Linked DNA regions of Homo sapiens. The protein of the gene in region 2 purifies or fractionates together with the protein of the main gene of each other region. This does not show direct contact. Each region holds a gene or a part of one and is shown on either strand. Other genes may lie near its edges.

Region 1 (3,853 bases), on a different chromosome or scaffold from region 2:
GTGACCATTGCTGTATTGTTTCTAAGGGCCGAATGCAGGCAGCAGCCCAGTGTCCATCCAGACAGGTCTGGGTGCTCTGCAGCCTGGATGCGAGGACGAGTGGACAGAGAGTGAGAAACCTCTTCACGGAATGTTGTGGGATTATCTACAGGATATGTTGTTACATGAAAAAAAGGTCAGGTGCAGAACAGTGAGCGTAGCCGACGATCTTCTGTTGAAGGAAGGAGGAAAGGCAGTGTGTGTTCCTGTGTGCTGGTGTTTGCATCCAGGGACTCTGGGAGGAAACACCAGAAGCTCCTCTAGTCTCCCCAGCGGGACTGGGGAGGGATCCTGGCAGGGATGGGAGGGGCAGCGTTCTCACTGCAACTCGTAATAATCTGGAGCTTCGGAGCTGCATGTACACACAATCTATGCGTACATAAAGACCCAACAAAAAGAGATTTAAGATAGCCGTCAAAGCTGCAGCTGAGGCAGCCAGGTGACCCCTAAACCCTTCAGGGTCCCCCGGGCCAGCTGAGCTGCCCGCTGGCCTCTGAGGGGAGCTCACCCATCTCCCGGTGGCTCTTGGTGGCTTCCCGGTGCCCTGAGGCCACAGCCGGCTCTGCCCAGGAGCCGCTCCCTCCCACCTGGCTTCTCCTCGGGCTCTTGGTCCAGAGCCATGCACCACATCGGCCCTGACATGCTTTCCATTTTCTTTGCAGCCAAGAAATTCTCATTCCTCAGGAAGTTGTGCGGCGACCCAGCTGAGGGGCCCCCGACTCCCCAGGTATGTACAGGCAGCAGCCTGCACCGAGGCTGGCCACAGATGCTCTGGTCTTGATGGTCCTGAGGCCCCCTCCGCCCCCACCCGCCCGGCCTTCCTCTCCCTCTCAGGACAGTAACCGGGCCTGCCTACTGCCTCCCGAGAGCCGACTCCTGGGGCCCGCCGGGCAGGGCTTCCAGCCACAGCTCTGAGCCAGCAGGCGGGCGTGTCACCTGATGTTCCTCATGGCAGCCGCTGAGCCAGCAGGCCTCACTCCTTCCCTTGATAAATCAGACCAGCTCCTTCCCTTGACAAAGCCCCTGGGCACAGCTGTGTTCTCAACACTCCTCCCCACCATCCAGGACTCCGTAAAGGCCACCTCCTCCAGGAGGCCTTTATGATGCTCCATCTGGGCTGAGGTCCCCACTCTGAGCCCCCTCCTCCTCCATCACCTCCTGGAGGACTCTGGCCATGGGTAGGGGGGTCTGACATGTGGGACTGGGCTTCATGTGGGGCCTGGCTGTTGCTGTTCCTACCCCCAACCCTGCAGCCTGGCCCCAGTGGGTGTCTGGGCCATGTGGGACATGGCTAAGCCCAGTGCAGGGCAGGAGATGTGCAGGGCAGGAGATGTGCAGGGCAGGAGATGTGCAGGGCTAGGAGCCAGCCCTCCCAGGAGGACCTCGCCTACACTGGCTGAGGCCTTGAGCGGGTTCCCCACCTCTCTGTGCCTGGATTCCTCACCCATAAATTCAGGGCGACAATCACAGATCACCTCTGAGCCACCGTGAGCACAAGGGAGGCAGTTCAGGAAAGTGCTCAGACGCCCAGCATCATTTATTCACTCAACAAACCTCACCTGTGAATCCTGGCCCCAAGGACTCCCAGGCCTTTGCCCCCTGGCAGTGGATCCCAGAAGAGGGAAAGGGGCCCTCCTCCCGGGGTCATGGGACAGGAGGTACCTCAGTGGTGGGGGCAGAGGAGGAAGGGGCACCCGGGCCCCCCAGCTGGCATGACTCTTTTTGGTGGTGTGATGTGGAGTTTGCAGGCTGGGACCTCGCCCACCCTGGAGACCTTGGCCCAAATTGGGCAGGACCCTCCTCCCCGGTGCAGGCAGTCCCTGGGCACAGCAGGAAGAGCCAGCCGGAAGTACAGGTACCAACCTCGTGCTGGGGACAGAGGGCCTGCCAGCCTCTGCGTTAGGAGTCCCCAGGCGGCTGTAGTGCGGGAACTCCGGGAGGGGCATGAGACACCACCAGCTCAGGCCGGTGGGAGGGTCCTGTGACCTCAGGAGGCAGCCCCCGCCTCCACAGAGGCAGCAGGGTCTCTGAGAGTGCTCCAGGCCTGAGGCCTGTCCCTTCAGCTCCCAGCTGCTCTGCTGCTGGCTGTGTGACCCTGGCCAAGTCATCCGCCTCTCTGGGCCTGCCATGAGGACCCAGGGGTCAGTGGCAAGGACAATGCCTGCAAGGGCTGAGCCCTGCCTCACTCTGCTGTGTAAAGGACGCCCGGTCCCTGCTGGGCAAGTCAGAAGGGGCCCCCACACGGAGCGGCCTGCGCACCTCGTGGCCACAGCCAATGGCTCGGGTCTGAGTCCTGTCCGCACAGAGGACAGTCCCGTATGTCATGACATGAGAACAGACATGATGAGTGTGAAGCCAGCCCTGGGTGAGCAAGGGGCCAGGCTCCTCTGGGCAAGCGGCTCCTGCTACATCTGGCATGTGCCAGAATGGGAGCCGGCACCGTCTGGAGGCTGGGGGCTTCCTGGAGCAGGATCTGGAGGTTACCCTGTAAGGCCTGGTGGCAGGGAGACCCTGGCTGACGGCAGGATCTGGAGGTTACCCTGTAAGGCCTGGTGGCAGGGAGACCCTGGCTGACGGCAGGATCTGGAGGTTACCCTGTAAGGCCTGGTGGCAGGGAGACCCTGGCTGACGGCAGGGGAGTCCCCGCTTGGAACCAGCCGCCCAGGCCCTGAGAGGTTCAGGTTGAGCCTCTGCTGCCTCAGTCCCCTATGTCCTGCAACGCAGCCTCCTGCCTCAAGGCCCTCCCCATGGCAGGTGTAAGCATCCACCTGGGCCCTCCTGGACGCTGCCAGGACCCTGCCCTGGGGCAGTTCCTGCAGGCTGAGAGCTTGTGCCCCACACAGGTGCCTGTCCTCTCCACAGCCTGGCCGAGGACTGCTCTGAGCCTGTAAGCGGCCTCCTCACACCCCAGAAAGCTCCCCCTCCCTCCCCCTCCACTCAATCTCTGCGCTCCACCGCCCCTCTTCTCCCTAAGACAGGGAAGGGTCCCTGTTCCATCTGGCGGGATGCCCTCTCCCTTCCTGCTTCTAGGTAGGGGCTGAGCCGAGCATCCCTTCTAAGCGCGGAGCTTCTGTGATGGCTGCACGCAGCCTCTTCTGCTTCTGGCCCGGCCACACCCGCATGGAGAGCCTAGAAGCTCCCTGTCTAGGCGAGGGCCACCCAGCCCCTCTGCCCCACTCACCCCTGACCTTTCCTTCCAGGCTCCACTCAGGACCATGAGCGCAGGCTTCCCTGGGGCCCATCGAGGGCTGAGGATGGCCGTCCAGCCCACTCCCCAGGGCCCCCCTCGGACAGCTGCGTCGTCCTAGCGCCAGGACGGAGGGGCCATGCCTGGGGAGCGCCCCCGAGGAGCGCCGCCCCCCACCATGACTGGAGACCTGCAGCCCCGCCAAGTTGCCAGCAGCCCGGGGCACCCCTCCCAGCCGCCACTGGAGGACAACACCCCAGCTACCAGGACCACCAAGGGTGCCAGGGAGGCTGGCGGCCAGGCCCAGGCCATGGAGCTCCCCGAGGCCCAGCCAAGGCAGGCCAGGGACGGGGAGCTCAAGCCCCCATCCCTGAGAGGCCAGGCCCCGAGCAGCACCCCTGGGAAGAGGGGCAGCCCCCAGACCCCACCGGGGAGAAGCCCCTTGCAGGCTCCCTCAAGGCTGGCGGGCAGGGCAGAGGGCAGCCCCCCACAGCGCTACATTCTGGGCATCGCCAGCTCGAGGACCAAGCCCACCCTGGACGAGACACCAGAGAACCCACAGCTGGAGGCTGCCCAGCTCCCTGAGGTGGACACCCCCCAGGGCCCTGGGACTGGAGCTCCACTCAG
Region 2 (4,208 bases):
GTAGCATAGTTATTGCATCTCTAAGTGTGGAAGCAGTTTAAGCATGTTTGATTTATTAACTGCCATGTGGACATAGCCATAGTTAGGAAGAACAGGATGCATCATGGGATATCAAAAAGCATGCTCTGCTCAACCCCAGTGCAGTGTATTGTGCATATAATGCTAACTGATAGGTATTATGACAGAGAGAGGTCAATATCTGGAAATCGGTATTCCTGACTACTCCTGACTACTGACTTGCTTGAGCCACCACGCGCTCTCTGAAATATATTGGCTTTAGCGATTTGTCTAGATTGATCCTTGGCATTTTTTTTTCCACAGATGGGCTCTAAGGAACGTACTTTCAATGATTTAAAATCCTTTTGGAGATTTATCATTAATCTTAGGATAACTGGTATCTCAGTACAAATGAGATACTGTGAAAGTGAAGAGAGCTGGTGTTAGGGACTAATACTTTGGATTCAGTGAACTTGCCTTAATGAAATTTTGTCCTGAGCATCTTTGTCACATTTGAATATTAGTTTTAGTTCCTGTGTTTTAGTTTTTGTTTTACTACTGATGTTGATTACTGATTGATTAATAAACACTTTCCTTTTGGTAGGCAGCAAAATGGTATTCTAAAAAGGTAGTTTAGTGTTTGTGTCATAATTTAGAGATGCCCTTGCTTGACATTTCTTTTTTTTTTTTTTTTTTTTTTTTGAGATGGAGTCTTGCGCTGTCGCCCAGGCTGGAAGGCAGTGGCGCAATCTCGGCTCACTGCAAGCTCCGCCTCCCGGGTTCACGCCATTCTCCTGCCTCAGCCTCCTGAGTAGCTGGGACTACAGGCGCCCGCTACGCCCGGCTAATTTTTTGTATTTTTAGCAGAGACGGGGTTTCTCCGTGTTAGCCAGGATGGTCTCGATCTCCTGACCTCGTGATCTGCCTGCCTCGGCCTCCCAAAGTGCTGAGATTACAGGCGTGAGCCACCGCACCTGGCCTGCTTGACATTTCTTACATGGGATTTTGTGAGTAGTAGAAAAGACCCTAATATTTAGTATGGAATATAGCCTTTACTTGTTGAGTGACCCTAGGGAAATTACTTAAGCTCTCAGAGATTGACTTTCCTCAATTATAAAATGAAAATTTCCCATTTATTGTGGGGAACAAGTGAGTTAAATGTGAAAGAATGCATTTTGTTAATTGTAAAATGCTGTGCAAATGAATTGTTCGCTACATTTTAAAATTAGGATAGAGAGACCGAATAGCCAGCATGGAAATCTGGAGAACTATGACCCCAGATGTTATATTTTCTTAGTCGATGAGATATCATCCCCTAATTTTCTTAATTTTTAATTTTTTTTTTTTTTTTTTTTTTTTTTAAGATGAGAGTCTTGCTCTGTCGCCCAGGCTGGAGTGCAGTGGTGCGATCTTGGCTCACTGCAACCTCCGCCTCCCAGGTACAAGTGATTCTCCTTCCTCAGCCTCCCAAGTAGCTGGGATTATAGGCGTGCGCCACCAGACCTGGGTAATTTTTGTATTTTCAGTAGAGGTGGAGTTTCACCGTGTTGGCCAAGGCTAGTCTTGAACTCCTGACCTCCAGTGATCCGCCCACCTCAACCTCCTAAAGTGTTGGGATTACAGGCGTGAGCCACCATTCCTGGCCCTTAATATTTTTATAAAGTAAGGGGCATATAAAACAGTACTATAAAAAAAGAATATTTAAAATGTTAGTGTCAGAATTGAACTCAGAATGAGTGAGCTGTTTCTGTGTTAACACAAACATGAATGTATGTCAAAAGATATTTAGTGTAATATGCATTTTTTATGAATGCCAGTGTAACACTGGTGTAGTATTCACTTTTTTTTTTAAACAAATGGGAATTTTATTGTGAGTCTTTCATATGTCTTATTGCAGGGATTCTCAACCCTTCTGATTGTATCCTGAATTTATTTTCTATATATTATTGAGATTTATTTACTTATTTATTTGAGACAGAGTTTTGCTCTGTGACCCAGGCTGGAGTGAAGTGGCACTCACTGCAACCTCCACTTCCCGGGCTCAAGCCATTCTCCTGCCCTAGCTTCCAGAGTAGCTGGGATTACAGGCATGCACCACCATGCCCACGTAATTTTTTGTATTTTTAGTAGACGTGGGGTTTCACCATGTTGGTCAGGCTGGTCTTGAATTCCTGACCTCAAGTGATCAGCCCACCTACGCCTCCCAAAATGTTGGGATTACAGGTGTGAGCCACCACACCTGGCCTAATTTCTCGTATTTTAAGTTACCCTGTTTAAAATGTTTTCTCGTCCGGGCGCGGTTGCTCACGCCTGTAATCCCAGCACTTTGGGAGGCCTAGGTGGGTGGATCATGAGGTCAGGAGTTCAAGACCAGCCTGGCCAAGATGGTGAAACCCTGTCTCTACTAAAAATACAAAAAATTAGGCGCGGTGGCAGGCGCCTGTAATCCCAGCTACTCCAGAGGCTGAGGCAGGAGAATCCATTGAATTTGGAGGGCGGAGGTTGCAGTGAGCCCAGATCTCGCCCACTGCCCTCCAGCCTGGGTGACAGAGTGAGACTCCATCTCAAAAAAAAAAAAAAAAAAAAAAAGATGTTTTCTCATGCCCCTTAGTATCCGCCATTGTGTCTTATAGTTAGCTGGGTCTCAATTATTTGTGGTTTTCTTAACTTTTTTTAGAAGCATGATATATATAGATATATATATTTGGTTTATTTTATCTGCTAGTTGGTACTGGGTTCTTTTGTTGGACTTTTCTCTACTGAGCACCTACTAGAATGTGGGTGGGTCCCCTGTCCTTGTCTTAATTTCATCTGCCCTCAGGTTATAGTGCTTTTCAGTGCTTTCTTGAGGCAGTGTAAGCCAGAGAATACTTGACCCTAGGAGGGTCGCTTCTGGTGGTCTCTTTCTTGAGGAAATCTTAAAACTAATAAAAAGAAAAAGAAATGCTATGCATAATGATTAGCATTTTCAAAGGTGAGTGATAGGAAGTTTTAACATTTTGTAAGAGCAACTAGGGAAAGGCCTGCCTGCTGTCTTTTTTTTCTTTTTTTTCCCCTGCCCGGTTTTTCACTTCTCTTTCAAATTCAGCAACCATTAAAACACAGCATTTGATTTAGGTTATTGTAGACATCAAAAAGAGAAAACCCAGTTAATTTTTTATGTTTTCTTTTATGTTCAAAGAGAAAAACCAGTTAATTTATGTTTTCTTCCAGTCTTGTTTTTTTTTTTGTACAAGTATTTGTATTTGTATTTTTTTTTTTTTTGAGACAGCATCTCACTCTGTTACCCAGGCTGGAGTGCAGTGGCTCGATCATGGCTCACTGCAGCCTCCACCTCCCGGGCTCAATCAATCCTCCCACCTCAGCCTCTGATAGCTGGGACTACAGGCATGCACCGTCATGTCTGGCTAATAATTTTACTTTTTATAGAGATGGGATCTCACTTTTTTTTGCCCAGGCTGGTCTTGATTTCTTGGGCTCAAGCGATCCTCCTAGGATTACAGACCTAAGCCACTGTACCCTGGGGTTTTTCATTAAAAAAAAAAAAAAAAGAAGCCCTTCTTAATAAGGAGATATTATGCACTAGTTACCATGCAGAATTGTATTGGGTTGGGGTGCCTTTCTCTTTGCTTGGAATGCCCTTCTTTCCCTTTCTGTCTTGTGAACTTTTCTTATATTTTTCAAGGGTGAAACTGGACATGAACCCTTAAACCTCTAGGCAAAATTAGGTGTACCTTACTTCTTTGCTTCCTTAGTTCTCTACTGACCTCTGGGCACTTGCAGCTTAATTTGTTTCTATTTACTATTTTGTTTGCTCCTCTAAGACTATGGGTTCCCTTAGGGCAGCAATTTAATCTTCTTTCCATTGCTTTCCTATACTTTAAATGGCTGAATGAATGCATGAGTGGATGACTGTCTTTGTCCTAACCGAACTTTAGTAGATAGTTATCATTACTGTTTTACAGATGAGGAAGTTCAGGCTCAGAGAGGCTAAGAAACTTTGCCTAAGGTCATATAAGTAGTAACTGGGATGCTGCAAAGATTCAAATCAGTCTCTCTACTGGATCATACTGCCAAAAAAGAGTAACAGCTAGTAAATTTTAGTTCCAGGCTCTCAGACTTCAAAGTACCCTGTTATCTCTGTAGTACACTTACATTGATATAAAGCTTTGCTGTATTTTTCAAAATCCATTTTGTTTTCTGTCCCTAAA

The links. Proteins that work in one complex are often made in the same cells at the same time.
Region 1: the proteins of BRWD3 (region 2) and ZNF469 purify together in Homo sapiens (affinity purification with mass spectrometry, with the first as the bait; one large-scale study listed by BioGRID). This does not show direct contact.

Annotation. Positions count from the first base shown.
Region 1 is NC_000016.10:88,424,106-88,427,958, forward strand, and holds part of ZNF469 (zinc finger protein 469), read left to right. Parts: exon of another isoform or gene 1-701; 5' UTR 702-766; exon of another isoform or gene 767-2,161; intron 2,162-3,239; 5' UTR 3,240-3,365; coding exon 3,366-3,853. UniProt on the Homo sapiens protein: May be involved in transcriptional regulation.
Region 2 is NC_000023.11:80,799,593-80,803,800, reverse strand, and holds part of BRWD3 (bromodomain and WD repeat-containing protein 3), read left to right. Parts: intron 1-4,208. UniProt on the Homo sapiens protein: Plays a role in the regulation of cell morphology and cytoskeletal organization. Required in the control of cell shape.